Linked DNA regions of Homo sapiens. The protein of the gene in region 1 interacts with the protein of each later gene in a biochemical or structural test. Each region holds a gene or a part of one and is shown in the gene's direction. Other genes may lie near its edges. The genes, in order: CYTH2, ALDOA, ARF1 and IPCEF1.

Region 1 (7,014 bases):
TTGAGATTCTGTGAGTCTAGGTTGACCACAGAGGCAAGCACTGGTGAGTCTAGGACAGATTTTACGTGGAGAGTTGAACTACTCCAGAAACTAAAGAGTAATGTTTCTAGAATGCACAAAACATTGTTAGTCTGTGGGTTTAGAAAGACTGAAGTGACAGATTAAGAGTTCTTGATATTAGATAACTCCAACTTCTGGCTGTAGAGCACCCAGCCAAGAGAATAAGCAGTGCTTTGAAAGGATCCACTGGGTGGGTTGTTTTTTTTTAAAGTGCCATTCTAGAATGTCCAAAGGGAATCAGGATTCTGTGGCTGTAGACTGATCACAGAGTCAAGGAAGCAGTGGCAATTCTAGATATCTGAGATTTTGCTGGTTCCAGTTTGCCCAATGGAGTTGAGAATCTCAATGATTCTAGATGACTTCTTGTGGTTCTGTAATGCCAAAAGGAATGAAGGCTCCAGGGATACAGAGTTGTCCATTACCAAAGCCTGGAAGTTCTCATCACCTCCAGGTGGACTGCTTGGCAGTGCTAGGAGGTGGACTCAGGACTTCAGAAGCAACATTTCTGGCCTGACCTGGAAGGTGAAGGTGAAGGTGAGACCCTGTAGGGCACAGGGCTAATTAGTGGACAAGGGAAGGGGGAGGCCCAGGGCTGGTGAGTCTAGAATGCTCTGGAACCCTACACCTAGTGATGTGTGTCTATTTCTTTTTCTTTTTCTTTTTTTTTTTTTTTTGAGACTGAGTCTCGCTCTGCCGCCCAGGCTGGAGTGCAATGGCGTGATCTCAGCTCACTGCAACCTCCGCCTCCCGGCTTCAAGTGTTTCTCCTGCCTCAGTCTCCTGAGTCGCTGGGATTACAGGCATGAGCCACTATGCCTGGCTAATTTTTGTATTTTTAGTAGAGACGGGGTTTCGCCATGTTGGCGAGGTTGGTCTTGAACTCCCGACCTCAGATGATCCACCTGCCTCGGTCTCCCAAAGTGCTGGGATTACGGGTGTGAGCCACCATGCCCAGCCGTGTGTCTGTTTCTTAAAGATATTATACATATGTATATTATATATATGTAATATAAATACAGATATCTATCTATTTTTTCCCTTGGTCCCTACAACAGGCTTAGAGATGGAGTGCTAGCTAATTGGAATGAGGTCCTTTTCAAGGACCCCAGAAGCTTTGCTCTAAATCCCAATGCTGCCCCAACTTACTGTGTCACTTTGGACTCCTCTTCATGTCAGTTTCCCCATCTGTAAAAACGGGATATTGGAACTTGAAGTTCTTCAGGGGCCTTTCCAGCAGGATGAGTCCTCACTACACCAAGGGTGGGATGGGCATTCGAGTCCTGGGGATTTCCCTCCTCTCCCCAGTGCTGGATCATACGGCCTTCCAGGAGACGCTGGGATGTAAGATACTCTTGGAGGCTGGCTCTGAACTCGGGTGTCTGAATCACAGGGCAAGGGTAGGCGTGGGCTGTGGCTAACAGCCAGAGTCACTTCCCTGGCCTAGCTTGGGGACCTGGGGAGGAGGAGGTAGCTCTGGACACCAGGGTTCTTCCCATTGTGGGAGAGTGAGTGTTTTAGGGGGAGACCTGTCCCCCAGATTAAAGAACTGGGAGCCCTAGCGGATGTGTCTGCGAATGTGTTTCTCGAGCATGGGTCCTCCGACCTGGCCCCCTGCCCATGCTACCATCTACCTAAGTGCCCCGCAGGCTGGGAGCCAACTGCAGAGGGAGCCAGTGACAGTGAGGAGGACGTGTTCCCACCCCGTGTTCTGGACCGAGGGCAGCCACTGTCATTGCCATTCAGCCTTCACAAGTGCTGCATCAACCCAAATGCCCCCTCCAGCTTCTCCATCTCCCTTTATCCCTCAGAATCCCCATGTAATAACCGGATGGGATTAATTAGCTGGCTGCTCTCTCAGCTCAGGGTGTCTGGGGTAGGTAGGGATGGGGGCAATGGAAACGCAGGGTTGGGGAAGGATGTTAAGTTGGAAGTGAAGGGGCAGGGAGGGGGTTTCGTTTGAAAGGAGTATGGGAGCAGGGCAGCCCAGCCTGGGTTTCCACTGGGGAGGGCAGGGCCTGGGCCACTCATAAAGGTCAGTGAGGGGATTAGGAGCCTCCATGTCTAATCCGACAGCTTAACTAGGTCCTGGCCCTGAATCCGTCTCCACCTGCCCAGCCCAGGGACAGCAAATGAGGACGAGGCCCAGACACCACTTCAGCCCCCATTACGGCTTCCCTCTTTACAGGGGTGCCTGGGTTCCCTATTCCAGCCAGTCCCTTGACCACATTCCGTTACAAATAATGGGACATAGAGGCTGGGGAAGGGGAAGGGGAAGGGGCCTCAGAGGAGGGAGGAGTTTAAGAAGGGCAAGGGTGGCTGGGCACGGTGGCTCACGCCTATGGGCACGGTGGCTCACGCCTAGCACTTTGGGAGGCTGAGGCGGGTGGATCACCTGAGGTCAGGAGTTTGAGACCAGCCTGGCCAACATGGCGAAACCCCGTCTCTACTAAAAATACAAAAATTAGCCGGGCATGGTGGTGGGCGCCTATAATCCCAGCTCCTTGGGAGGCTGAGGTAGGAGTATCGCGTCAACCTTGTGGGTGGAGGTTGCAGTGAGCTGAGATCATGCCAGTTCATTCCAGACTGGGCAAAAGAGCAAAACTCTGTCTCAAAAAAAAAAAAAAAAAAAAAAAGGGCAAGAGTATGAGAGGACAAGGGGGACCGTGACGTGAGGGGAGCCAGAGAGGAAAAAAGGCCTCTGAGATGGGAGAAGGAATCAGAGAGGTGGGAGGATGCTGAGGAAAGGGGAGTTGTCTTAGCAGGAGGATGCTTGGGGAAGGGAGGAGTCTTAGGAGGATGCTAAGCTAAAGGAAGGAGTTTGGAGAAATGAGGGAGGAGTCTGAGCGGCAGAAGGTGCCAGGAAGGCCGAGCCTGTGCTTTCACTAAATTTCACCTTCCCCTGTTCCATTCCCCATGACCGATACCAAATAGCATAGCATTTAGAAAAAAGTAAATCTTGGCCAGGCGCGGTGGCTCACGCCTGTAACCCCAGCACTTTGGAGGGCCAAGGTGGGCGGATCATGAGGTCAGGAGTTCGAGACCAGCTTGGCCAACATGGTGAAACGCCCGTCTCTATTAAAAATACAAAAAATAGCCAGGCATGCACCATCATGGTGCAACCCTGTAATCCCAGCTACTCGGGAGGCTGAGGCAGGAGAATTGCTTGAACCCGGGAGGCGGAGGTTGCAGTGAACCGAGATCGCGCAACTGCACTCCAGCTTGGGCGACAGAGCAAGACTCTGTCTCAAAAAAAAAAAAAAAAGAAAAAACGAAGAAGTCTTTTGTTTCACCACTCCACGACTCCGAAGAGGCTGAGGGGGATGGGGAGGGCATAGATGGTGATAAAGAAGGAGTTCGGCGGTAAGAAGGGGCTGAGAGGAGGGGAAATACGCGGAGAAGAAATGCAAAAGAAAAGGAGGCCTAAAGCCGCTCCCGGTTGCATGGCAACCTTTGCGGTCAGAAGCCAGCATGGCCTGCTAGGAGGTGTGGCTTACGGAAACAAGCCAGTTCTAGCCCCGCCTCCTAGCAACAAGACTAACAAAGTACCGCCCCCTAGCAACGTATTATCGGAGGCGGGGCTCGGTTTACCTAGACTCCAAGTGTCCAGGGCCTTTGAGCAGGCGCAGAGGTGGCTGTACCGCGTGGCTCCGCCTCCGCGCGACACTTTTCCGGGGCTTCTCATTGGAGAGCAAGCCTGTCAAGTGCTTTCTGTTGTTTCGGAGGCGGGGCCTGCTGCCCTGCCTGCACTCCGATTGGCCCCGCGGGCCGTCTACCTCTGGCCGGACATACCTACACCGGCTTTTTGTACGACTGTTGGCCCTGGAGAACGATCCTTTGGTGGCGAGGGCGGGGAGGACGAAAGCGCCCACTGTGGATTGGACAGTGTCAAAAAGAGGGGCGGTCCCTACTGAAGGGGCGGTTGGGCGACGAAGGGAAGAGTCTTTTCAGCGCTGAGGACTGGCGCTGAGGAGGCGGCGGTGGCTCCCGGGGCGTTTGAGCGGGCTCACCCGAGCCCGCGGGCCAACGCGGATCCAGGCCCGACTGGCGGGACCGCCCCGGATTCCCCGCGGGCCTTCCTAGCCGCCATGGAGGACGGCGTCTATGGTAGGTCGGGGAGGGGCGGGGTCGGCTGGGAGTTGCTGGAGCGTTTTCTCCTGAACGTTCCGCCGCGAACGTTTCCCCCTGGCGCGCGGCGCCCAGAAGCGTTCGGCTCAGTCGTAGACTTGTCGCGCCGCTTTTGTTGGGCGCTGGACGGGCTTCCGGCGGGGCCCGAAAGCCGGGCGTTCCAGGCCATTGTTTGGGCTGAGCCTGTTTCCGGTGGCGGCGGGAGGGGCGGGATGGAGTGGTGGAGGCGAGGCCGGGGCGGAACCATTCCCGCTGGAGGGGCGGGCGAGCCCAGCGCCTGCCGGGGCCGGGGAGGGGCGCTTGGGTTGCGGGGAGGGGAGAAATCTTGGGGGGCGGGGGCCTTCGATGTCCCGCCCCACCTTCCCAACTCTCCTGAGCTGTCATCAGTTCCCCCGGCTGTAGTGACTTTTCATGGACCCAGTAGTCCGGATAACCAGGTCCCCAGCTACCTCGCCAGTAATGGAGTCAGAAAACCAAGGCCTCAGTCCCCTTCCAAGTAATGGACCTAGAAGCCGAGGCCCCCAGCCCTTTCTTCCCTCAGATCTAAGAGCTCAGGCACCCATTCCCCTTCTCCCTCAGACTCAGGAATCCGGGCCCCAATTCCCCTTGTCCCCCAGGACTCAAGAGTTTAGAGCCCCAGCTCTTTCTCCTCTGCAGGGAGGAATCCAGGCCCCCAGCCCATTCTTCTGTGCAGACATAGGAAGCCCCTTACACATCCTCTCCCAGCTCTGTCCGCCCCCAGATTGCAGGAATTCAGGCTCACGGCCCCTAGCACTGACTTTTAAACCTTGACCCCGATCCCTAGAACCCCCAGACCTGACTCCGGAGGAGCGGATGGAGCTGGAGAACATCCGGCGGCGGAAGCAGGAGCTGCTGGTGGAGATTCAGCGCCTGCGGGAGGAGCTCAGTGAAGCCATGAGCGAGGTGGAGGGGCTGGAGGCCAATGAGGGCAGGTGAGGGCTGGGGCGGATGACCTAGGGGGCGTGGGGTTGGCTGAGGCCAGGGATGCCCAGGCATTGACCCTCCACCCCCAACCCTGCTCTCTGCTCCTGCAGTAAGACCTTGCAACGGAACCGGAAGATGGCAATGGGCAGGAAGAAGTTCAACATGGACCCCAAGAAGGTGCTTGGGGCCACAGGACTGGGATCAGCTGGGCAAACATCCAGGCAGGGGCTTCTGGCACCTCCGGGTTCCAGAAGCGTGATGGTGCCGGGTCTATTCTAGGTGGACAGACTTGGTCCTAATCCCTGGATTCAGATACTGGCTGTCCATTTGTTTTCTGAACACTGAACACTGACCAAGTGTTCCAGCCCTCCTGACTGTTTTGTCCCCTGCCTGGAAGGTCGTCTTCCACTTTCTACTTGTATGGGCGCATTTCTGGTCCCAAGATGAGCTCGAGTCTTGTAGGGGCTGTGGACAAAGTGACATGCACAAAGGAGAGTTGACCTCTCTCCCACAAAGGTGCCGTGACGGAGGAAGGTATCAGGGTAGTGGACCTCTGGAGGAGGCAGGCTGGTGGAGTCAGGGAGGGCTTCCTTGAGGAGGAGACATTCAGGTCGGGTTTGAAGGATGAGTAGGTGTTCACCAGGTGGAGGAAAGGCTTTTGTTCACCTACTCTTTGTGTGTGTGTGTGAGACAGAGTCTTGCTCTATCACCCAGGCTGGAGTGCAGCGATGTGATCTCGGCTCACTAACCTCCGCCTCCTGCGATTCTCCTGCCTCAGCCTCCCAAGTAGCTGGGCTTACAGGCTCCCACCACCATGCCCAGCTAATTTTTGTATTTTTAGTACAGATGGGGTTTCACCATGTTGGCCAGGCTGCTTCCAAACTCCTGACGTCAGGTGATCCGCCCGCCTCAGCCTCCCAAAGTGTTGGGATTACAGGCATGAGCCACCGTGCCTGGCCTGTTCACATACTCATTTAACACCCATTTTCTGAGGCCTCTCAAGAGTCTGATCCTGTGTAGGGCAATGCTGGGGACCCAAAGAAGAATTAGATGCTGCCTTGTGCTCAGAGAGCCCTTGGACACCGATACCACAGTTCACAGTGAGATAAAGCAGTAGTAGAGAGGTCTTCGTAGCACAGAGAGTGAGAGAAACCTCCAGTCTAGCCAGGGCTTCGAGTTCACAGCCCTTGAAGGACTGCGTCTGCTAACAGGTTGTCACGTTATTCTTTCCTGAAGCAATTGGAATTCTGTTCAGTCATTCAACAAACATTGATTGGCTGGGTTCGGTGGCTTATGCCTGTAATCCCAGTGCTTTGAGAGGCCGAGGAGGGAGGATTGCTTGAAGCCAGGAATTTGAGACCAGCCTGGGCAGCATAGTGATAACTCATCTCTAGAAAAAATATAAATAAATAAATTAGCCAGGTGTGTTGGGGCATGCCTATAGTCCCAGCTTCTGAGGAGGCCGAAGTGAGAGGATCCCTTGAGCCCAGCAGTTCGAAGCTGCAATGAGCTGTGATCACGCCACTGCACTCCAGTCTGCAATAGAGCGAGACCAGGTCTCAGAAAAAAGAGAAAATGTACTGAGCACCTGTGCCTTGCCAGACCCTGTTGTTGGTGCTGGAATTAACCAGGCAAAGGCAGAGAGGGTAGGCCATGAAGTGCAAAGGCCATGAGTTGGGAAGAATGCTATTTAAGACCTGTGAGAAGGCTGAAAATGAAACCTGGCCCTGGTCTGTTGAGGGTGGGGGTAGGTCTGGATGCTGAGGTTCCCAGGGAGGTGAGTGGGGTGGCTTTCTGGCCCTCAGCACTGAGACCTTGTCCCCACCCACCAGGGGATCCAGTTCTTGGTGGAGAATGAACTGCTGCAGAACACACCCGAGGAGAT
Region 2 (7,702 bases), on another chromosome or scaffold:
GGCCTCAAGGAGCCAATCTTCTGTCACACAGCCATCCTGGGCCACTTCAGCCATTTGGCCTGACTCCAGCCCATGCCTAAGGCAGTTGCGGGTCATCCCTGTCCCAGGGGAGGACAGCAGTGCACTGGATAGACCAGTTCTCCCTTCTTGTCTCTAAGGACACGCTGCTCCTATTCCCCAAAGAGACAGACATTGTTTCCTCCAGGAGCTGAGAAGCCCTCTTCTTTCTTCTTTGCCTAAAGAAGGCAAATGATATGCTTAGATTCATCCATTCATTCAGCATTCATTTATATCTCAGACACCTGCTGAGCATGAGTCCAGTGCTAGCTCAGTGGAGAATATGGGATGAGCTGCCCCTGCCCTGGCAGACCCAGAGAGAGGCTGATGCTCCTGGCACTGGGAGGCAGAGGGCTCAAGAGGGATTGCAGGCAGGACTGTACATCCCAGCTCCATTCCCATCACTTGCCTCTCTGTCTATGCCTCCATTTCCTTTTTTTTTTTTTTTTTTTTTTTTTTTTTGAGGCAGAGTCTTGTTCTGTTGCCCAGGCTGGAGTGCAGTGGGTCGATCTCGGCTTACTGCAACCTCTGCCTCCCAGGCTCAAGCGATTCTCCTGCTTCAGGCTTCTGAGTAGCTAGGATTACAGGTGCACCCCACCACGCCCAGCTAATTTTTGTGTTTTTAGTAGAGAAGAGGTTTCGCCATGTTGGCCCAGCTGGTCCTGAATTCCTGACCTTAAGTGATCCGCCCACCTTGGCCTCCCAAGTTGTTGGGATTACAGGCATGAGCCACCATGTCTAACCATCCATTTTCTCTTTTGTAAAGAAGCCCATTACTCAGGATTCTGGTAATTAAAAAATATAAGGCTGGGCGCGGTGGCTCACACCTGTAATCCCAGCACTTTGGGAGGCCGAGGTGGGCGGATCACCTGAGGTCAGGAGTTCGAGACCAGCCTGACTAACATGGTGAAACCCTGTCTCTACTAAAAATACAAAAATTAGCTGGGTGTAGTGGCGGGCGCCTGTAATCCCAGCTACTCAGGAGGCTGAGACAGGAGAATCACTTGAACCCGGGAGGCAGAGGTTGCCCCAAGCTGAGATCCCACCATTGCACTCCAGCCTGGGTGACAGAGCAAGACTCCGTTTGAAAAAACAAACAAACAAATAGATCTAATTCTTTTGAAAACATTAAAATTGATTGGGCGCAGTGGCGCATGCCTGTAATCCCAGCACTTTGGGAGACCAAGGTGGGTTTAGCCCAGGAGTTTGAGACTAGCCTGGGCAACATGATGAAACCCTGTCTCTACAAAAAAATACAAAAAATGAATTAGCCAGGCGTGGTGGCACGTGCCTGTAATCCCAGCTACTTGGGAGGCTGAGGCAGGAGAATCGCTTGAACCCAGGAGGCGGAGGTTGCAGTGAGCCGAGACCGCGCCATGGCACTCCAGCCTGGCAACAGAGCGAGACTCCGTCTCAAAAAAAAAAAAAAAAAAGTACAAAAAATGAGCCGAGCACGGTGGTTCATGCCTGTAATCCCAGCACTTTGGGAGGCCAAGGCGGGCAGATACCTGAGGTCAGGAATTCAAGACCAGCCTGGTCAACATAGCGAAACCCTGTCTCTACTAAAAATACAAAATTAGCCAAGTGTGGTGGCACATGCCTGTAATCCCACCTACTTGGGAGGCTGAGGCAGGAGAACCGCTTGAATCCAGAGGTGGAAGTTGCAGTGAGTGGAGATCACGCCATTGTGCTCCAGCCTGGGCAACAGGAGTGAAACTCCATCTCGGAAAAAAAAAAAAAAAAATGGCCGGGCACAGTTGCTCACTCCTTTAATCTTAGCACTTTGGGAGGCTGAGGCAGGTGGATCATCTGAGGCCAGGAGTTCCGAGACCAGCCTGACCAACATGGTGAAACCCCCATCTCTACTACAAATACAAAAATTAGCTGGGTGTGGTGGCTCACGCCTGTAGTTCAGCTACTCAGAAGGCTGAGGCAGAACTACTTGAACCCAGGAGGTGGAGGTTGCAGTGAGCCAAGATCGCACCATTGCACTCCACCCTGGGCAACAGAGTGAGACCCTGTCTCAAAAAAAAAAAAAAAATTAAAAATAGGTAAATTGCCATTTTCAAAGATACCTGTAAAGATTTTTAAAATCATTCATGAATGCGGTCTGTTCGTTGCACAGAGTAGATGCTCAAAAATGGTGAATGAGACCCTCTATTTTGGTCTCATGCTGAAGAAGTCCATAAAGCCCACAAGTCATTTTCATGATGGACAGAAAAATGTGTGTGCTTTCTCTGTCTACTGCCTCAACTGCACAGACCCCGGGACTGTAGCAGAACCATCTTTTGAGCTTGACACCGGGAGGCCCAAATTCTAGCACGGGACCCAGGGCCAGTTGCTCTCTGGTCCTCAGTCTCCTCACCCATAAAATGGGAAGGAGAGAACCCTGAATCATTGCTTCTAGCTTCTGAACTCAGTTGTTCAGAACAAGGACTCACTGCTGATTTTTCAACAGCACAGGGAATTGCACTGTTCCTGGGAATGATGGACAGTACCCTCTGTTCCACTGGGCAAGTGAGATTTCCCAGGCCTCTCTGTTCCCTTCTCCCCTTAGAGAGCAACAGACGTGGCCCCATCCCACCTCCCTCAACCCTCTCTCTCCTCCCTCAGGACTGGGCACCTCGCTGCCCCCGCTGCTGCCCACTCTGCGACTGTGCCTGTACGTGCCAGCTCCCCGACTGCCAGAGCCTCAACTGTCTCTGCTTCGAGATCAAGCTCCGATGAGGACCCAGGGCCCCTGCCCTCTGGGGAGCGGCCAGCCCCCAGGGCCCATGTGCCCTCCTCCCTGAAGAGCCTTTCCCCACGCCACTGGAACCACAGATGGCCTGCCGAGCACCCAGGCCTGGGAACTGGAAGTGGCAGCGCAGGGCCTGGCTCCCTGCAGGGCAGGACTCTTGGCCGGCTGGACGGCAGCTCCTCTGGAGGGCCAGAAAAGAGAGGGGCTAGTGCTCGGGCAGGTGCCCTGGCTTCCCTTCCCCTCCACACGTCAACGATTCTATTTGAAGTTGGGCAGGGGGGTGGCGCTGCTCACCACACACAAGTGTTATAGGAGGAGTCTGGCCCTTGAGTACCGGGTACGCAGGGGTGCCTCAACCACACTCCGTCCACGGACTCTCCGTTATTTTAGGAGGTGAGTGTAGTGCCAGTATCTACTCTCCTTCTTAAAAAAAACCAGGGCTCCAGAGAATCAGAACAGCCACCATCACCGCAGGGAGTCAAGGGAGGAGGGAGATTAGAGAAGGAGCCAGGGAGGGTGGCAGGGAGGCCACGTGATCCGAGTCCCCTCACCCCTTTCCTTCCCACAGGTCCCTGGCCAAAGATTTATTTCTCTTGACAACCAAGGGCCTCCGTCTGGATTTCCAAGGAAGAATTTCCTCTGAAGCACCGGTGAGTGGGCAGGGGCTCCCTCCCCATCAATAGGGCCGACCCAAGTCTTCCTCCCCCTTCCCCCATGCCGGGCCCCACGATAGTGTGAATGTCAGGGGCTTCAGGTTTCCCTAAATATAGGTCCCTGCCAGAGGATCCGTGGCGGGAAAAGGGCAGGGGTCATTAGAGAAGATCGGGGACACATGTGGGGCGGGCAGGAGCTGCCTTATAACCAGCCCGGGAACCCCTAGCTCACTCGCTGCTGACCAGGCTCTGCCGGCTCCTTCGGCCTCGCCGCAGGTGGGCCCCTTGCAGGACCGGGCCGGGGTGGGGATGGGGTTGGGGTTGGGCCAACAGGGTCCAGATGGGGTCCAGGTGAGGAGGGGAGATTTGGACGATAGGAGCAGGGGGCTCAGCATCTGGGAGGCAGATCAGTTCGGGGACGGATTTTCTTTTGGAGAAGGAAGTCAGGCTCAAGGAAGACGTTTGGCAGGAACTGTGACCCCGCATGCCAGAGGCCGAGCAGCGGCCGGTGCATAGCCGCGCATTCTGGTTTTCTGTGGCGCAGAGGACTACCAGCCTGGCTGCGGCGGCCCGGCGGAGAGCGCGCACGCATGCGCGACCCAGCCCGGCCTGCCAGCCTGGAACTCGGATGGGGAGGTCTCGCCTCCGCGCGCCGCTAGTTCCGCCGCCTTCTCGCGCTCCCTGCGTGTCCTCTCGATGCCCTTTCCTCCGCCTCCCTTACGCCTGGGCCAGTGACAGGGTGTCGGCTCCGCGCCGATTCAGCCCGCGGGCGAGGCAGGCTAACGCACGACTGCGCGATGTGGCCCCTATGGTGACACGCGCTGCAGCCGCGAAGACCGGAAGCTGGGGCGGCCCCGGGCCGCGCGCGCTGGGCCTGGGAGGCGAAACTCAGCTTCCTTCGTTTCCGACTTTTCCATCCGCGTCCTCCACTTCCCCGTTCCGCCCTCCCCCATTGCCAACATTCTGGCTGAGTCACGGCGCCCCAGAGCGCGCCAGGCTGGGGGAAAGGAGCAGAAGGGAGGGCCCTAGCGACCCGCGGGATGTGGTCCGAGTCACGTCCGAGGGGGGTGGGGAGGGATCGTGTTCTCGGCGCCCGCCCCTTCCTAGCGCGGCCTCTGGGCTGCGCCTCTCGGGGGCGGCCCGTAGCCCAGTCCGTCGCCTGCCATTGGACGCCGCCCGCTCCTCGTAAAGGAAAAAGCTCGGCGGAGGGCGGAGTGGTGCCTTTAAAAGGCCGGGCGCCGCCTTCCGCCTGCCCGCCTCCTGCGCCGCCCCTTCCGAGGCTAAATCGGCTGCGTTCCTCTCGGAACGCGCCGCAGAAGGGGTCCTGGTGACGAGTCCCGCGTTCTCTCCTTGAATCCACTCGCCAGCCCGCCGCCCTCTGCCGCCGCACCCTGCACACCCGCCCCTCTCCTGTGCCAGGTGAGCGCCCCTCTTCACGTGCGGGGACCAGGGACCGTGGAGAGGGATCTTGGGGGCAGTGGCGGGTTGGGCGTCCGCGTGGAGGCCTCCCCCATCCCATGCCAGCGTCTCCCCACTACCAGGCACACACAGGCTCCCCGGCCCCTCCAGCCTGAGGTCCTCTAACTGCGCAATGCAGCGGCTGCGCGCGCTGAGTCATGGCGGGGGAGGAAGCCGGACGAGATGAAGGACCATTCTCCCCCTTTTCTTGCAGGGACCCCTGTGGCAAAGGATTAGGGCCCCTTAGCCCTGGCGGGGATCCTAAGAGGCAGTGAGGGGTGGGGGCCGGCCCATGTACAGCCCCAGGGTTCTCGCAAGTGGGAGCTTGGTTTCTGTCCTGGGAAACGGGGCGCCCTTCGCGAGGAGGGAAACCCCTCCGCGGTGCTTGATGCCCCCTTAACACTTTCCCTGTCTCTCCTTATCGGGCGACCTTGATTCTGAGCCCGGAACAGCTGCAGCCATGCGAAGCGACGGGAGCATTTTTCAGGGGAAGGCGCTTGCTCCTCCACGTTCTTGCCCCGTAGGAACAGTGACGATGGCAAAGCTTACCGCTTTCCTCGCCTCGGGCTAGGGCTTGTTCCGCCGCCCTTTCCTGGGCTTCTCCTTGCTCTCTTATATTTTTCCTAATGCCCCTTTCCTACCACCCGCCCCCTCCCTTGTGGGGAAAAGCCTGACCTTGGGATGTCCTTGAAGCCTTGGAGCCCGGGCCAGCCCTGGGATCTTGAGGGGATTGGAAGGAACACCCCAGTGGCAGTCAGAAGAGCTGGGTTCTAATCTCAGATCTGGCTCCGGGGTTGCTGTGTGGCTTGAAGCACAGACCTTTCCCATATCTGGGCCCTTTCCCACGAGGGTGTTGGGCCCTCTGCTTGATTCACGATCTTTACATTCTAAAATACTCCGGTTCGGTTTTGTTTTCAGGCAAGGTGACCCCATGGCAAGGCGCAAGCCAGAAGGGTCCAGCTTCAACATGACCCACCTGTCCATGGCTATGGCCTTTTCCTTTCCCCCAGTTGCCAGTGGGCAACTCCACCCTCAGCTGGGCAACACCCAGCACCAGACAGAGTTAGGAAAGGTACAGGGGCAGGCCTAGCAAAGGGAAGTTGGGCGTAAGAGAGAGCTGGGGACCAGAAGTGCCCCAGGGCCTGCTGGGTGTGGGGCAGGGGAGGTAGGGAACATTTCCCTGACCTCCAGGAGAGGGGCCCTGGTCATCGGGAGATGATGGGAAACCCTAGCTAACTAGTCCTTCCCCTCTGTTTCCTGTATCCAGGAACTTGCTACTACCAGCACCATGCCCTACCAATATCCAGCACTGACCCCGGAGCAGAAGAAGGAGCTGTCTGACATCGCTCACCGCATCGTGGCACCTGGCAAGGGCATCCTGGCTGCAGATGAGTCCACTGGTGCGGGCAGGAGACAGAATGGGTGGAGGGTGCAGGGTTGGGAGTGGCAGGCTGATCCCCTAATTCCCATGTGACACTCCCAGGGAGCATTGCCAAGCGGCTGCAGTCCATTGGCACCGAGAACACCGAGGAGAACCGGCGCTTCTACCGCCAGCTGCTGCTGACAGCTGACGACCGCGTGAACCCCTGCATTGGGGGTGTCATCCTCTTCCATGAGACACTCTACCAGAAGGCGGATGATGGGCGTCCCTTCCCCCAAGTTATCAAATCCAAGGGCGGTGTTGTGGGCATCAAGGTAAGGGGAGGGCCTCCGGACGTGAGGTTTGAGATGGAAGTGGAGGAAGGAAATCCAGGTTAGTGAGGCAGGGAATGAATGCTGGATTGGTGGCCTAGAGACTTGCATGGAGCCTGCTTCAGGCTTAGGGCATTTACTCGACATTTTTAATCCTCACAATTCTGAGAGAACAGTATCATTCCCACTTTACACATGAAAATCTCAGAAGCTCAGGGAAGTGAAGTGTTTTGCTCAGAGTAAGTGGCAGAGCCCCAGTCTGACACCCAATTCACTCAACATTTCTGTTGTCAAATAACATCCCAGTGTATCCTGTCTCAGAGGATTGTTACTAAGTGAACTAAGTGAAAATATTTTAATTTAATTGTAACTAAGTATTTGAGTAACTAAACATTTTAAGTAAATTTTTTTTTTTTTTTTTTTTGAGATGGAGTCTCGCTGTCTCCCAGGCTGGAGTGCAGTGGTGCGATCTCTTGGCTCACTGCAAGTTCCGCCTCCCAGGTTCACGCCATTCTCCTGCCTCAGCCTCCCGAGTAGCTGGGACTACAGGCGCCCGCCACCACCCGGCTAATTTTTTTTGTATTTTTAGTAGACACTGGGTTTCACCATGTTAGCCAGGATGGTCTCGATCTCCTGATCTCGTGATCTGCCCACCTCGGCCTCCCAAAGTGCTGGGATTACAGGCGTGAGCCACCATGCCCGGCTTAAGTAACTAAATATTTTAATTGTAACTAAGTGAAAATATTTGCCAGCCCTGAGATGCAGTTTAAGGGATTAAGTAAATGTGGGGGAAGACTGGGGCTAAAGAAGAGGAAAGAGGGGCACGCCCAGCTACCTAGGAGGCTGAGGCGGGAGGATCACTTGAGTCCAGGAAGTGGAGGCTTCAGTGAGCTGAGATTCCACCACTGTACTCCAGCCGGGGCGACAGTGGAAAGGGTGCTAGAGGTCATTTCCTGTGTCTTAATGTTGTTACCCTGACCCCAACAGGTAGACAAGGGCGTGGTCCCCCTGGCAGGGACAAATGGCGAGACTACCACCCAAGGTGAGAACTGTTTGATTCTCTGCCCTACGAACCCAACCAGAGCAGGTTTGGGTGCTGGGA
Region 3 (7,019 bases), on another chromosome or scaffold:
GTTCCCTTCCCTGACTCATGCCAAAGTATCCCTGAGATCTGCAAGGGACCGAGGACAGTACTGGCTGGTGGTCTGGGTACAGGCCACAGAGGCATCTGGACCCCATGTGCATCTGGACCAGTTTGGTTGGATCCATTCATGGACACAAAACGGATGTGAACTCACAGAGCTACATTTTCTCCCTGCCCCTGTTCAGGCACAGTGAGGTGTCGGGGAATGTAGCTGCCAGAGTTGACTGTCCCGTTCTTTGGTGTAATGCCTGAAGGCCACCTTTACCATTGGTCTGTGGTCCTCACTGAAGAAAGAAACATTCTTCCTAAAAGACTTTTTTTCCTCAGAGTTGGAGCCCACAGCGTGGTCAGGAAAGAGAAGTAGCCACTGGTGGCTCCTGGCATCCTCCTGCTGGGCAGCCCCTTCTCAAAGTGTGAGGGGTCCCCTTGTGTACAAGCAGGAAGGCTCTGAGAAAGTCAGGTTTGCTCCTACCACAGGATAATTCCGATGAACCTGAAAAGCGGGTTTTGGCTTGTGTGCAGGGACTCTGGTGGAAGAAAGGGTGACAGCACCTGGCCTGGGCATGACACAAGTTAGGACCCGTACCAAGAGGCCCTGGAATTGAGGGTGGGGGTTGCTGTGGACTCTTTCTCCCTCTTAGGAAACTCTATTGGGTCTCCATCTGTCACAGAAGCAGTAAATGATGTAGGGGCTGCCAGGTATAGGGTCCTGTGGGGATGCTGGAACATGCCGAGGCAGGACGTGCCAGCCACCCTCTGCCCATATGTGCAGCAGGGCCACAGATGTGCTTGTCGGTAGGAGAGACCAAGCTGTCTGTGTGCCGATGTCTTGACACCTGAGACTTCAGGTTCACCCATCCTGGTTCTGCCATTCCATTGCAGGGTGGCTTCCCTCCTTTGGGGACTCTTAACGCTTTGGTCTGTTAAAAAAAAAAAAAAAAATCCGGGCGTGGTGGCTCACTCCTGTAATCCCAGCACTTTGGGAGGCCGAGGTGGGCTGATCATCTGAGGTCAGGGGTTCGAGGCCAGCCCTGACCAACATGGTGAAACCCCGTCTCTACTAAAAATAAAAATAAAAATTAGCTCAGCGTGGTGGCACGCGCCTGTAGTCCCAGCTACTCGGGAAGCTGAGGCAAGAGAATCTCGAACCTGGGAGGCAGAGGTTGCAGTGAGCCGAGATCGCACCTGAGAGGTTGCAGTGAGCTGAGATCAAGCCACTGCACTCCAGCCTGGATGACAGAGTGAGACTCTGTCTCAAAAAAAAAAAAAAAAAAAAAAGCCACCAATGGGGAGGGCCTGGGATTACTGGCATCACAAACCCCACTGCCTGCAGGCTGCATGATCTCCTGGGCATGGTTGGCGGCACTGCCCCGGGCATGAGGAGGCAGCAGGCATGTGTGGATCACGGACAGTGCTGGGGTCGAGGGGGTTGGTGACGGTGTGACACCCCTTCCCCTGAGTGGCTGGGTGTTACTGTCAATTCTCCCAAGTGCTGTGCTTCAGTGGTCGTGGCAGTCTGGTGCTGCCTCTGCCCAACTGGCAGGCGACCCTTATTCCTGAGTCCCTGCTGACTTGGTGTCCTAGGTTTATTCCTCCTAGACTTGTTAACTTGTACAGTTAACAAGCCTTTGACACCACACACCCTCGCCTCAGCTTTCCAACCCCCTAGTAATAACAACATCAGGACTCCCTGAGTATCCTCCACCATATGTTTTCCTGGAGTAACTCATAAAAGGCCCTCTTTTCGTTCCATTTCATGCTTGGGTTTTTCATGCGAACCTGTCATTATTAGTTTTTCCGCATTGCCTAGAGTTGCCCAACCCCATAATAAGAATACGTAGGTGGCGTGCCCCATTCTTGCAGGTGTCCACTTCCTGCTCCAGTCTGAGGGGGTTGGCTAGGCTGCTGCTCTCTCTCCATGTGGGGTTGGCTAGGCTGCTGCTCTCTCTCCACGTTGCTGTGGGCTCGCATCCTCTCCCTGGTTCCCTGGGGGAGCTTCTTAGGGAGGGAGCATGTGAGAGATCTGAGGCCCTGCAGTTTGGGAGTTATTTTCATTCTCCCCTAACACTTGTTGGATACTTTGGCTGGGTATAGAATTAAAGGGTTTCGAAAGCAGTGTTTCAGAGTCTTCCATTCTCTGGGGCATCAGAGGTGTCATTTGCCCCTGTGCATTCTGGAGTCCACCTTGCACCTTTATTGGGTCTCATCTAGGTCCTTGGCTTTGCGCTTCAGCCCTTTGAGGCCGAAGCCCAGATTCCTGGGTCCCCACTCTGGAACAGGGAAAAATTTCACCCCGTAATTTCGTACGTTCTTTCTTTTTAGGGTTTCTGTTGGTTGATATCTTAAGTTACTCCTCATCTTCCTTTTTCATTCTGTTTGTTTTTGTTCTGCCTTCTGAGCACCTTCATTTTGAATTTTCCTTTTCAGCTATTTGTGTATCTATCAGGTTTCTCTCCTTGTCCTTTGTTAAAATAGTATTCTGTCTTCAGTCTCCTGTCTTGGTTGCCTCCTTGCAGATTCCTTTTATATTTGGGTCTCTTATGTTGGTGGCCTTTCAAAGGCAGACAGGCCTGTCTCTTGGTGGGGGGTGGGGGTGGGCGGAGCTCCAGTTGCTTGTGTGTGGATCTGCTGGGGCATATAGAACTCTCAGGAATTATTCTGGAATTTCATGGCTCAAGTGTGTTGTCATGGCTCAGCGCAGGCCTAAGCCCTGCTGCAGCTGCTCCCCTAGACCAAGCTTGTCCAACCCTTAGGCCGCATGTGGCCCAGGATGGCTTTGAACCCGACCCAACACAAATTTCTAATAAAACATTGAGATTTTGGGGGTTTTTGTTTTGGTTTGGTTCACCAGCTGTTGTGTTAGTATATTTTGTGTGTGGTCCAAGACAATTCTTCTTCCATTGTGGCCCAGGGTAGCCAAGATTGGACATTGCTGCCCTAGGCAGTCCCAGCTTCATCCCTTGGGTCCCAGGCGGTCCAGTTTTCTCTGCCTGGTCAATCATCACATCCAAGGTCTTCCTCCCTTTTCTCTCTGCCCTTCAAGGCGTGTGTGTCATTTTGGTGTCTTCATTGGTAGTGGTTGCAGGAGTGGACTGAGAGGGCAGGTATTCAGTCTCTTCTGTGCTCCATGGGTGGTGGTCTTCCTCTGGGCTTAGAAAACCTGGCCGTCCCCAAAAAGGGAACACTACAGTGAAGGTCCTTATAAATTTCAGAACTCATTTAAATTTCAGAATAGGTGACATGTTCAAAACCAAGAGCAAAGTGTCCAAAGGACACTGATCCAGCTTGAAGGGGTTCTGTGGCTCATCTGGGATGATGGCAGTGTTAAATCAGACACGGGCGGCCAGTTCACACCCACTGAAACACACAGGCATGTGTGGGCTCTTGCTGATGTTGAGAAATGGAGAAGAGGCATTTCCTTGCCGTAGCGTGCTGGGGTGACTGGATGAGAGAGTCACCAGCGGACAGTCATGGCTGTGATTCAGCCAAAAGCCACCTGTGTGTGGAACCCCTGGTGGAGGAGGTCTGATGAGGGGTGGGTGTGCTCACAGGCTCCTGGCATGTCCTCTTGAAGGCAGAAGCCTTCCTCACTCGGGGTAAGCCCCGCTTGCGGGTGCAGTGAAGAAGCAGTCATTGTTTCAGAAAGTGACCAGTGTTTTCTAAAGTCCCTGTTCGGGATAAAATCACCTGATTCGTGAAATTGCCCACTGGCCAGTGAGGCCAAAGCCTAACAACTTCAGTGTCCTCACAGAGGCGTCTGGGCAGTGGAGGCCCTTCCTGCTGGAGTCTCCGCAGGGCTCTGATGGTGGGTGCCAGCTGACTTAATTGCTGTCCCCGATATTTGTGTTCTGCTGAGGGAACCCCTACCCTTGCGGTGTGGGGCAGACATGGCGGGCGTGCCCCATCGAGGCTGTGTCCTCATGGGAGTGTGTCCCTGAAGGTGTCCTGCTGAGTCTGGCGTGGCCCTGTGTGCTCTGGTCCTTGTGAGTGTGGGCAGGCACAGTGAGTGGTGCTCTCTGGCCCTGGAAGGTTCTGTGTTGGGGTGTAGAGGAGCCTTGCACGCACCTGGAAGCCAGTCCTCAGGCAGCCAGCCTCCCCTCCTGCATAGGCTGGGATGAGGCAGCCTTTCTGGCCATGCAGCTGTGGGGACAGCTTCCCAAGATGAGGGCAACAGTTTCTCAATTCCTGACTCAGCCATTTTCCCTCAGCCCCCATCCTGAGGTGGATTTGGGGGGCATGGGAGGCAGGGCTCTTTCCCTGTTTCCCTGCAGGCTTCCAGGAGGTGGGGTGAGGCAGTGGTGCATCCCTGGGTGGGTGGGTTCTGAGCAACCACTGCTGGGCAGCACAGAACCAGACATGGAGCACCTTGTCTCTCCAGGTGTCCCTGGCCAGTGTCCTTCCACCTGTCCACAAGCATGGGGAACATCTTCGCCAACCTCTTCAAGGGCCTTTTTGGCAAAAAAGAAATGCGCATCCTCATGGTGGGCCTGGATGCTGCAGGGAAGACCACGATCCTCTACAAGCTTAAGCTGGGTGAGATCGTGACCACCATTCCCACCATAGGTGAGGTGGGGGCCAGCAGGGAGTGGGCTGGGCTGGGCTGGGCCAAGGTACAAGGCCTCACCCTGCATCCCGCACCCAGGCTTCAACGTGGAAACCGTGGAGTACAAGAACATCAGCTTCACTGTGTGGGACGTGGGTGGCCAGGACAAGATCCGGCCCCTGTGGCGCCACTACTTCCAGAACACACAAGGTAAGTGGCTGGGGCCTGGTCCCATGGGCACTCCTGCTTCTAGAGAGGGGGGGCCAGCCCATAGATGGGGCATCGATGCCCATAGATGCGGCAGGGGGGCTGTGTTCCCATGACCATTTGACACTGGCTGCCCGGCAGGCCTGATCTTCGTGGTGGACAGCAATGACAGAGAGCGTGTGAACGAGGCCCGTGAGGAGCTCATGAGGATGCTGGCCGAGGACGAGCTCCGGGATGCTGTCCTCCTGGTGTTCGCCAACAAGCAGGTAGGCGCCCGGGCCAGCCTGGGGAATGTGAGGAGCCAGTGTGGGTTCCGCCTGGTGGTAGGGGTTACTGGAGGCTGGTGGGGCCCCTTTCTCTGTCCTGTGGACAGCCCTTCCCACCAACCCTTCCTTCCCCCAGGACCTCCCCAACGCCATGAATGCGGCCGAGATCACAGACAAGCTGGGGCTGCACTCACTACGCCACAGGAACTGGTACATTCAGGCCACCTGCGCCACCAGCGGCGACGGGCTCTATGAAGGACTGGACTGGCTGTCCAATCAGCTCCGGAACCAGAAGTGAACGCGACCCCCCTCCCTCTCACTCCTCTTGCCCTCTGCTTTACTCTCATGTGGCAAACGTGCGGCTCGTGGTGTGAGTGCCAGAAGCTGCCTCCGTGGTTTGGTCACCGTGTGCATCGCACCGTGCTGTAAATGTGGCAGACGCAGCCTGCGGCCAGGCTTTTTATTTAATGTAAATAGTTTTTGTTTCCAATGAGGCAGTTTCTGGTACTCCTATGCAATATTACTCAGCTTTTTTTATTGTAAAAAGAAAAATCAACTCACTGTTCAGTGCTGAGAGGGGATGTAGGCCCATGGGCACCTGGCCTCCAGGAGTCGCTGTGTTGGGAGAGCCGGCCACGCCCTTGGCTTTAGAGCTGTGTTGAAATCCATTTTGGTGGTTGGTTTTTAACCCAAACTCAGTGCATTTTTTAAAATAGTTAAGAATCCAAGTCGAGAACACTTGAACACACAGAAGGGAGACCCCGCCTAGCATAGATTTGCAGTTACGGCCTGGATGCCAGTCGCCAGCCCAGCTGTTCCCCTCGGGAACATGAGGTGGTGGTGGCGCAGCAGACTGCGATCAATTCTGCATGGTCACAGTAGAGATCCCCGCAACTCGCTTGTCCTTGGGTCACCCTGCATTCCATAGCCATGTGCTTGTCCCTGTGCTCCCACGGTTCCCAGGGGCCAGGCTGGGAGCCCACAGCCACCCCACTATGCCGCAGGCCGCCCTACCCACCTTCAGGCAGCCTATGGGACGCAGGGCCCCATCTGTCCCTCGGTCGCCGTGTGGCCAGAGTGGGTCCGTCGTCCCCAACACTCGTGCTCGCTCAGACACTTTGGCAGGATGTCTGGGGCCTCACCAGCAGGAGCGCGTGCAAGCCGGGCAGGCGGTCCACCTAGACCCACAGCCCCTCGGGAGCACCCCACCTCTGTGTGTGATGTAGCTTTCTCTCCCTCAGCCTGCAAGGGTCCGATTTGCCATCGAAAAAGACAACCTCTACTTTTTTCTTTTGTATTTTGATAAACACTGAAGCTGGAGCTGTTAAATTTATCTTGGGGAAACCTCAGAACTGGTCTATTTGGTGTCGTGGAACCTCTTACTGCTTTCAATACACGATTAGTAATCAACTGTTTTGTATACTTGTTTTCAGTTTTCATTTCGACAAACAAGCACTGTAATTATAGCTATTAGAATAAAATCTCTTAACTATTTCACCGGCTCTCCAGTGCTTCCACACAGGCATGCTGCCCCCAGGAGATGGTGGGTGCATCAGCCAGCTTTACTCTAGGAAGTACAGGTGACTGCCTAGGGCCGCCACCTCAGTCCACACCCTCCCCATGTTCCCTCCTGAGTGTGCAGGCACTTCTCTGTGTCTGTGTGAGAGGCTCTTCCAGCATGGTTGCCCACAGTGACCTTGATCTCGTTTGCAGTCCTGTCGGGCCCAGCCAATGAGACCTGGGCCATACAGGGCAGGGGTCAGCAGGCACCATGGAAGACCTCAGCCTCCGTCCTTCCCTCCATCGGCCTGCTGCTGAACCCCACTTTGTATAGCTGGCTATGGGGCAGGGCCACTGCTAGCATACATAGGGCTTTGTGCCAACCAGGGAATGGTCCCTGCCTGAGTGGGCACAGCCCCCACCTCTCCTCAAGATGCCATGCAGCAGGGGGCTGCCAGTCTGGGGGTACCTGTTTCTGGGATGGGGCCATCA
Region 4 (7,804 bases), on another chromosome or scaffold:
AGTTTTTTACATTTTTAGGTGCTTAAAAAAATCAAAAGAAGAAGATTTTGTGATGCGTGAAAATTATAGGCAGTTCAAATGTTAGTGGCCCTAGATAAAGTTTTATTAGAGCACAGCTGCTCTTTTACATGTTATCTATGGCTGCTTTGATACCACAATGGCAGGGTTGAGTAATTGAACAGAGATTGGCCCACGAAATCTAAAATATTTACTATCTGGCCTGTTCCAGAAATAGTTTGTCAGCTCCTGGTTTAGTTGGTCAGAGTCAAAAACCCAAGTTCTCACAACGATCCCCATAGGACCTAACCATAATCATGGGTTCCCCGGCTCCCCTCTCCATCTCTGACCCGCTCTGCTCTGTTCCAGCCACACCTGCCCCCATGCTGTTCCTGCGGCACCAAAAGGCTCTGGGGGTGGCAGGATGTTTGCATTTGGGGCTCTGTCTGCGGATTTCTCTTCCCTTAGCTGTCTACACAGCTCACGCCTTCACTTCCTCCAGGCTGTCACTCAGAGGTCACCTTTGTGAGTCCTTTGCTGGCCTCCCCATCTAATTTTTAGCCTCTCCTTAGACTCTATATATTTCCTCTGCTGATTTATTTTTCCTCCTTAGCACTTACTTCTACCTAACACATTATATTTTACTTTCTTTGTTTGTGTAGAGAGTACACCATCCTGATCTGAGCATGAGAAAAGAAGTTCCCTGAGGGCAGGACTTTATTTGGTTCACTGCTGCGTCCTCACTGCCTAGACACAGTGCTCAAAAATATTTGCTGAATGCTATGGCTAGGCTTTGTGTCCCCACCCAAACCTCGTCTTGAATTGTAATCCCCATAATCTCCATGTGTCAAGGGAGACACCAGGTAGAGGAAATTGAATCATGGGGGTGGTTTCCCCCATGCTGTTCTTGTGAGAGTGAGTTCTCATGAGATCTGATGGTTTTATAAGGGGCTCTTACCCCATTACTCAGCACTTCTCTTTCCTGCCACCTTGTGAAGAAGGCGCCTTGCTTCCCTTCACCTTCCACTGTGATTGTAAGTTTCCTGAGGCCTCCCTAGCCATGCTGAATTAAACCTCTTTAATTTATAAGAGTCAATTAAACCTCTTTCCTTTAGAAATTACCCAGTCTCTGGCAGTTCTTTATGGCAGTATGAAAATGGACTAATACACTGGATGAATGAACACAAAATTCTAGAGTGAAATATAAATCCTTCAGAACTTTGAAGGCTGTGCTCGCTGACCTTCTAACCCTTAATGCTACTTCTGTGAAATCTGGAGCCCTTTGATTCCTTGTTTCTGTGAAAGTGACTTATTTTCTGTGTTTGGGAGATTTTAAGATTTTCTCTTTATTTCCGGAGTTTGGAAATTTTGCAGTGACTTGAAATTCTTCATCCTAGGCACTCGATGAGACTTTTTAATCTAAATATTCTTGGACTTCAGGGGGATCCTTTATGTTATTTCTTTGACTATGTCATCAAATAATATTTCCTGAAAATTTCACTTGAATTTATCACCCAACCTATCAAAATCTTTATTTAACAATTATATTTGCAATATCCAAGGGGTCTTTCTTGTTTTCAGATTATCTATCTTTCTTAGCATCCTGTTCTTTTTAATGGATACAATATCTTCAGGACTGTCTCTAAGGATACTGATTAGAAGCATATCTAGGCCAGGCGTGGTGACTCATGCCTGTAATCCCATCACTTTGGGAGGCCAAGGTGCACAGATCACCTGAGGTCAGGAGTTTGAGACCAGTCTGGCCGGCATGGTGAAACACTGTCTCTACTAAAAATACAAAACATAGCTGGGTGTGGTGGCACATATCTGTAATCCTGGCTACTCAGGAGGCTGAGGCAGGAGAATCACTTGAACCCTGGAGGCGGAGGTTGCAGTGAGCCGAGATAATTAATGCCACTGCACTCCAGCCTGGGTGACAGAGCAAGACTCTGTCTCAAAAAAAAAAAAAAAAAAAAAAGCACATCATCCATCATCCAGCACATGCTAGATGAGGCTCTTATTGCCAGAATGTGGAGTTCTGACTGTGGAGTGCTCATATCCACATACAATGCCTGTATTCTCTGCATGATTTCACTATGTGTAGAGACGAATCCTCGGTATGCTGCCCGGGGTTGGAATTGTGTGTGTTTGCTGTGCAGAGGCTGGGCGGACAGAGAGATTTGAAAGAGGGGTATGGGAGGGGCTGAGTTCTTACAGACTTTGAATTACTCTTCCTGTTTTCAGTCCTGTCACCCTATCACTCATTTAGCTCTCTTAGCTTCTTTTGGCTTGAGTTCCGGTCCTCTCAGGGATTCAGCACCGCACACGGGCAATTTCCTCCAACGCCGTGTTCTCCTAACTAATGAGATATTGTGGTTCCCCTGCCTGCCTCCATCTGTTATTGCTCCTCCATCGGCTTTCAGGCTGCCAGAAATCTGTTGTGCTCTCCCAAGTTCTGATGCTTTTCCTCCTTTTTTGGGTTATTGTGGGTTTATATCTTTTTTTTTCTTTTGAGACGGAATCTCGCTCTGTCACCCAGGCTGGAGTGCAGTGGCGCGATCTCAGGTCACTGCAACCTCCGCCTCCCAGGTTCAAACGATTCTCCTGCCTCAGCCTTCTGAGAAGCTGGGATTACAGGCTCGTGCCACCAGGCGTGGCTAATTTTTTGTATTTTTAGTAGAGACAGGTTTCACCATGTTAGCCAGGATGGTCTCGATCTCCTGACCTCATGATCTGCCAGCCTGGGGCTCCCAAAGTGTTGGGATTACAGGTGTGAGCCACCGTGCCCGGCCCTATAAACTTTTTATACTTTTCTCATTTTAACGGAGTCTTTGGGGAGGGAGGGAGCAAATCTGTGGTCAGCCCGTCATCTTGAACTGACAGTCCGGCCGTTTTGAGGATTATTCTAATTCTACAAATCATCTTTGCTCAAAGAATTTAAGTGGCTCTATTCTGGCCCCATAAAGGTAAATAACATGTCTTTTGAGGATATCTTTGATGATGGCATCTAAATGTCTGGTGAGAAGCCAGGCCATGCTGTTGATACCACTAAATTCCTTTAATATCACCTAGTACCATTTTTTTTTCTACGTAAAGCAGGGAACTAGAAGACAACTCAATATAGGGAGAAGATGAGGCAGCACTTCCAGAAATAGAAGTGTACACAAACAAGAAGCCGCTGAGAGAACCTTCATTTTGTTCCTGCTCAAAATGTACAGCATCTTCTTTCATTTTTTCACTCCTCCACAGATTTAGTTTACATTTTATCTTTGTCTTAGTCATTCAGGCTGTTATATCAAAACACCGTAGCCTGGGTGGCTTACAAACAAAAGACATTTATTTCTCACAGTTCTGGAGGCTGGACATCCAAGATCAAGGCGCCAGCAGATTCATTGTCTGGTGAGGACCTGCTTCCTCGTTCCTAGGTGACTGTCTTCTGGCCATGTCCTCATATGGTGGAGGGGTGGGCAGATCTCCAGGTTCTCTTTAATAAGAAAATTAATACCATTCATGAGGGCACTGTCCTCATGACCTAATCACTCCCCAAAGGTCCACCTCTAAATACAATCACATTGGGGATTAGGTTTCTATATATTCTATATATTCTATATATATATATATATATATATATATATATTTTATATATATATTATATATATATATTTTATATATATATTATATATATATATTTTATATATATATTATATATATATATTTTATATATATATATATTTTATATATATATTTTATATATATATTATATATATTATATATATTTTATATATATATTATATATATTATATATATTTTATATATATAATATATATATTTTATATATTATATATATATAATATATATAATATATATATTATATATATAATATATATATAATATATATATTATATATAATATATATATAATATATATATAATATATATATTATATATATATATTATATATATATATACACATACATATTTATTTATTTATTTATTTTGAGTTGGAGTCTTGCTCTGTCTCCTAGTCTGGAGTTCAGTGGTGCGATCTCGGCTCACTGCAACCTCTGCCTCCCAGGTTCAAGCAATTCTCCTGCCTCAGCCTCCTGAGTGGTTGGGATTACAGGCATCTGCCACCACGCCCAGCTGTATTCATTTCCCTAGAAGGTATAGAGAAACAAGAAGCTGGTGTTGAAAGGGAGATTGGGAGGGCAGGAATTTGTAATGAGATGGAATATCTCTGACTTTCAGCCTGCCATTTTCCTTTTCCAATGTGGGAAAGAAAAGTTTTGTGGTTAGAGACTCTTCTATGTCTACTGCAAAAGATGGCAGGCTAAGACTTATTTTTATCCTAAAATACGTTTTACAAATGTGTCTGTACCCTCTCTTTATTAGAGCATTATGAACGATTAGGAAAGGAGGAAAGAGGGAAATCTGAAAGAAGATTGAACCTAAAGAGGTTGAAGTGGCATTTCACCCAAAAATGCTGAGAATGACTCTGCAGATCATCTCACCCTCCATGCCTGTAAATGAACATCCTTGCCTCCAAAACAGGAAAGCAGAACCATGAACTGTTCCACCAATGTGCTCGGCAAATGAATACACTGGGCAGTGCTTAGTGATCAATGAACTCAGGCAGATGGGGTGTGCTTGCCTTACATGTACTGTGTCCTGGATATGGGCATCAAGGAAGGGTTTCATAACAATGAGAAGGAAGAACGTTAGGATTGAGGAAGTGGAGATGATACTTCCTCTTCTTTCGAAAGAGCTTTACTCTCTGATCAGCTTTGAATGTTAGTTCTGGGTTGACTGAGTTTCCAGAGCTGAGGCTGCTTTAAGTAGAATCCTCAAGCTTGGCCTCAGAGTACTATGAGGCTTCTGAATCCAGGAATAAGACTGCTCTTGGATTTACTCTCTTTGTATTGCATGTAAGTAACGTCACTTCTTGGCTGATGTATGAGAGGTAACTGCTTGACAGATCAAGATGGCAAAGCAATGGATACCCTAGCACTCTCCTTAGAGTAGTGAGGTAGGAAATATGACTTTGGGGATGTAATATTCACTCAGCTCTCTGTAATCTGGGAAGCCAGGTGCTAAAGATTCTTTAATTCTGTGAAAGCTTTGAAAGAGGAGAGAGTTGTGTACTCACTCTGCTTTTATGTTTCTTAAATGGGTGTTGTCTTGATAGGTGTTTAGACTGCAGACCACAGGTTTGATTTAGAAAAGCACAATTCAGCATGTATTTGGGTCCTGAGGAGTTCATTTGGGGAAGCACTCTGGGGCCGCCCTCTTTCGAGAAAGTGTGTTCTTTGCAAGGGAGCTTCCTTTGCATGGAGGCAGCTGGGGGACATTTTACACTTTGATAAAGGTCTCAGGCTTGCCAAAATATCTCTGGTATAAAAATGAAAGCTAGGTGTTGTTGGTTCAGAGTCTTTTAGTAAGGGTGTCTGGGGCACTTGATTTTTCTTTGCTGGGGTATATGTGAAAGTATTTAATTATAGAAGTCAGAATTATAACCCACTGAAGCATCTTTGACTACAGCAGTGGGCTCTATTAGTCTTGAGTGGCCTATGTGTTCCTAGTGCTGTCCTTGATAAAGTCTAATTTCTATCGAGTTATTTATTTTATGTAGAAAATTGAAACCGAGGGCTGGGCACAATGGCTCACACCTGTAATCCCAGTACTTTGGGTGACCACGGCGAGAGGATCACTTGAGGTCAGGAGTTTGAGACCAGCCTGGGGGCAAAATAATGAGACCTCATCTCTACAGGAAGAAAAAAAAAAAGAAAGAAAAGAAAATAGAAAATAGAATGCCGGGTGCGGTGGCTCACGCTTGTAATCCCAGCACTTTGGGAGCCCAAGGCGGGTGGATCATCTGAGGTCAGGAGTTCGAGACCAGCCTGGCCAACATGATGAAACCCCGTCTCTACTAAAAATACAAAAATTAACTGGGCGTGGGAGCATGCACCTGTAATCCCAGCTACCTGGGAAGCTGAGGCAGGAGAATTGCTTGAACCCGGGAAGCGGAGGTTGCAGTGAGCTGAGATTGCGCCACTGCACTTCAGCCTGGGTGACAGAGCAAGAGTTCATCTCAAAAAAAAAAAAGAAAGAAAGAAAGAAAAGAAACAGAAATGGAAAGAACACACATTTCTTTCTGCTCACATCATGCAAGCAAGGAAGAAAAGGGTGTAAGTTTGTGTATGTGTTGATGAACTCATTCTTTAATTTACCTTATAATTTCCTTCCATTCCTCTTTTTATAAATCAAGTGTCTTTTCTGGAGTGGGTCCATGTATGAACTATTTCAGGCAAGCTGTGTTAAGCAAATATACATCATCAGAGTATGGAAATAGGAAGTTCTTTCCTGCGGTAGTTTGCTGTGGCAATAAGAGATAAGAAATTACTTCATCACTATTGCCTGAGACTTTCCTTTTGACTCGTGCATCCTTTTGAACAGCTCACTTCTGCTTTCCATCCAGCTTGGAGGCTCTGCAGTGTGAGCTGATAATTGCAGTACAGGTTAACAATTTGCAAGTAGGTCTAATGTGGCAAATGGTGTGTGTGTGTGTGTGTGTGTGTGTGTGTGTGTGTGTGTGTGTGTGTGAAGAAAAATCCTAAAAAATAAGCTTTTTAGCCTTAAAGAGAATCCTGCAAATGGAGGAGTTACTTGTGCTCCCAAGTGCTCAGAACAGTGCCTGCTCTCAGTAAATATTTGTTGAATGAATGAATAACTGGCATAATTCATAAAATGAATGTGGTAGGAAAGCCATTGCTTTATCTCTGTTACTCAGGCACTTTAAAAAGTGAATGTTAGAAAAGATCAGAGTGGAGGAGGAGAGGAGAATATGAAGGTGTGGAGTAAAGAAAGGGTGTGTAGAACGGGGATCAGAAAAATCCCCAGGTCAGTAAAGTGAAAGGGTTGGCGATACATGGTGGTGGAGGTGGAGGTGGAGATAAAGGGGGTGGTGTTGGAAGTGGTGGTCGTAGGGGAGGTGATGGTGGAAGTGACGGTGGAGATGGTAGAGGTGGTTGTGGAGGCGATGGTGGAGGTGGTAATGGAGATGGTAGAAATGGTGATTGGAGTGGTAGAGGTGATGGTGGAAGTGACGGTAGAGATGGTGGAGGTGGTTGTGGAGGAGATGGTGGAGGTGGTGGTGGAGGAGATGGTGGAGGTGGTGGTGGAGGTGGTGGTGGAGATGGTGGTTGGAGGTGACGGTGGAGGTGACAGATGGTAGAAGTGATGGTAGACATGGTGGAGATGGTTGAGGAAGTGATGGTAGAGGTGATGGTACAGATGGCGGAGATGGTGGTTGGAGGTGATGGTAGTAGAGGTAATGGTGGAGGTAATCATGGGAAGGTCAGTATAATTTAGCCAAGAGAAAACACAGTTGGGGGCTCAGACATATCTGTTCAAAATCTATATCTCTGAACCTACCAGCTCTGTGACCTCCGAACCTATAAAGTGGTGACTATAACATATTGACTTTTTGGGTTGTTGTGTGAGGGTTAAAAATATGATTGCATTAAATGGCAGTTATCGATATCAGTTTTCAAGTTGCCAGAGCCACGCTTAAAAATTTAATCTCTAATTTCTCTTTTTTTCTTTATGCTTTGTGCATTTTCTGAATTTTGTAAAGTGAAAGTGAGTTTTTAAAAGAATCATTAATTTAAAATAAATATGATAAGCCTAGTTATCAGAATGGTTGAACACATGGTGGTATATAAAGAAATGTCATCAAGAAAATGATATTTATGGAAATAGTCTCATGATGTAATGCTAAGTCCAAAAAGGAGGAACATAACTTTTTCAAC

Evidence for each region.
Region 2: the proteins of CYTH2 (region 1) and ALDOA form a complex in vitro, tested with the Homo sapiens proteins (one study listed by BioGRID).
Region 3: the proteins of CYTH2 (region 1) and ARF1 are reported together in a solved structure, tested with the Homo sapiens proteins (3 studies listed by BioGRID and IntAct, with this or other methods).
Region 4: the proteins of CYTH2 (region 1) and IPCEF1 form a complex in vitro, tested with the Homo sapiens proteins (one study listed by BioGRID).

The regions. Positions count from the first base shown.
Region 1 is NC_000019.10:48,465,364-48,472,377, forward strand, and holds the start of CYTH2 (cytohesin-2), read left to right. Parts: upstream 1-4,005; 5' UTR 4,006-4,144; coding exon 4,145-4,163; exon of another isoform or gene 4,164-4,170; intron 4,171-4,275; exon of another isoform or gene 4,276-4,595; coding exon of another isoform or gene 4,596-4,680; intron 4,681-4,989; coding exon 4,990-5,137; intron 5,138-5,239; coding exon 5,240-5,306; intron 5,307-6,961; coding exon 6,962-7,014. UniProt on the Homo sapiens protein: Acts as a guanine-nucleotide exchange factor (GEF). Promotes guanine-nucleotide exchange on ARF1, ARF3 and ARF6. Activates ARF factors through replacement of GDP with GTP.
Region 2 is NC_000016.10:30,061,059-30,068,760, forward strand, and holds the start of ALDOA (fructose-bisphosphate aldolase A), read left to right. Parts: upstream 1-4,701; 5' UTR 4,702-4,869; intron 4,870-5,826; 5' UTR 5,827-5,839; coding exon 5,840-5,980; intron 5,981-6,175; coding exon 6,176-6,308; intron 6,309-6,391; coding exon 6,392-6,603; intron 6,604-7,587; coding exon 7,588-7,642; intron 7,643-7,702. Other genes in the region: uncharacterized protein LOC112694756, read left to right, coding at 2,671-2,784. UniProt on the Homo sapiens protein: Catalyzes the reversible conversion of beta-D-fructose 1,6-bisphosphate (FBP) into two triose phosphate and plays a key role in glycolysis and gluconeogenesis. In addition, may also function as scaffolding protein.
Region 3 is NC_000001.11:228,092,689-228,099,707, forward strand, and holds the end of ARF1 (ADP-ribosylation factor 1), read left to right. Parts: intron 1-4,389; 5' UTR 4,390-4,426; coding exon 4,427-4,574; exon of another isoform or gene 4,575-4,653; coding exon 4,654-4,764; intron 4,765-4,902; coding exon 4,903-5,027; intron 5,028-5,163; coding exon 5,164-5,325; 3' UTR 5,326-6,524; downstream 6,525-7,019. UniProt on the Homo sapiens protein: Small GTPase involved in protein trafficking between different compartments. Modulates vesicle budding and uncoating within the Golgi complex. In its GTP-bound form, triggers the recruitment of coatomer proteins to the Golgi membrane.
Region 4 is NC_000006.12:154,353,789-154,361,592, reverse strand, and holds the start of IPCEF1 (interactor protein for cytohesin exchange factors 1), read left to right. Parts: upstream 1-4,789; 5' UTR 4,790-4,921; intron 4,922-6,452; exon of another isoform or gene 6,453-6,526; intron 6,527-7,804. UniProt on the Homo sapiens protein: Enhances the promotion of guanine-nucleotide exchange by PSCD2 on ARF6 in a concentration-dependent manner.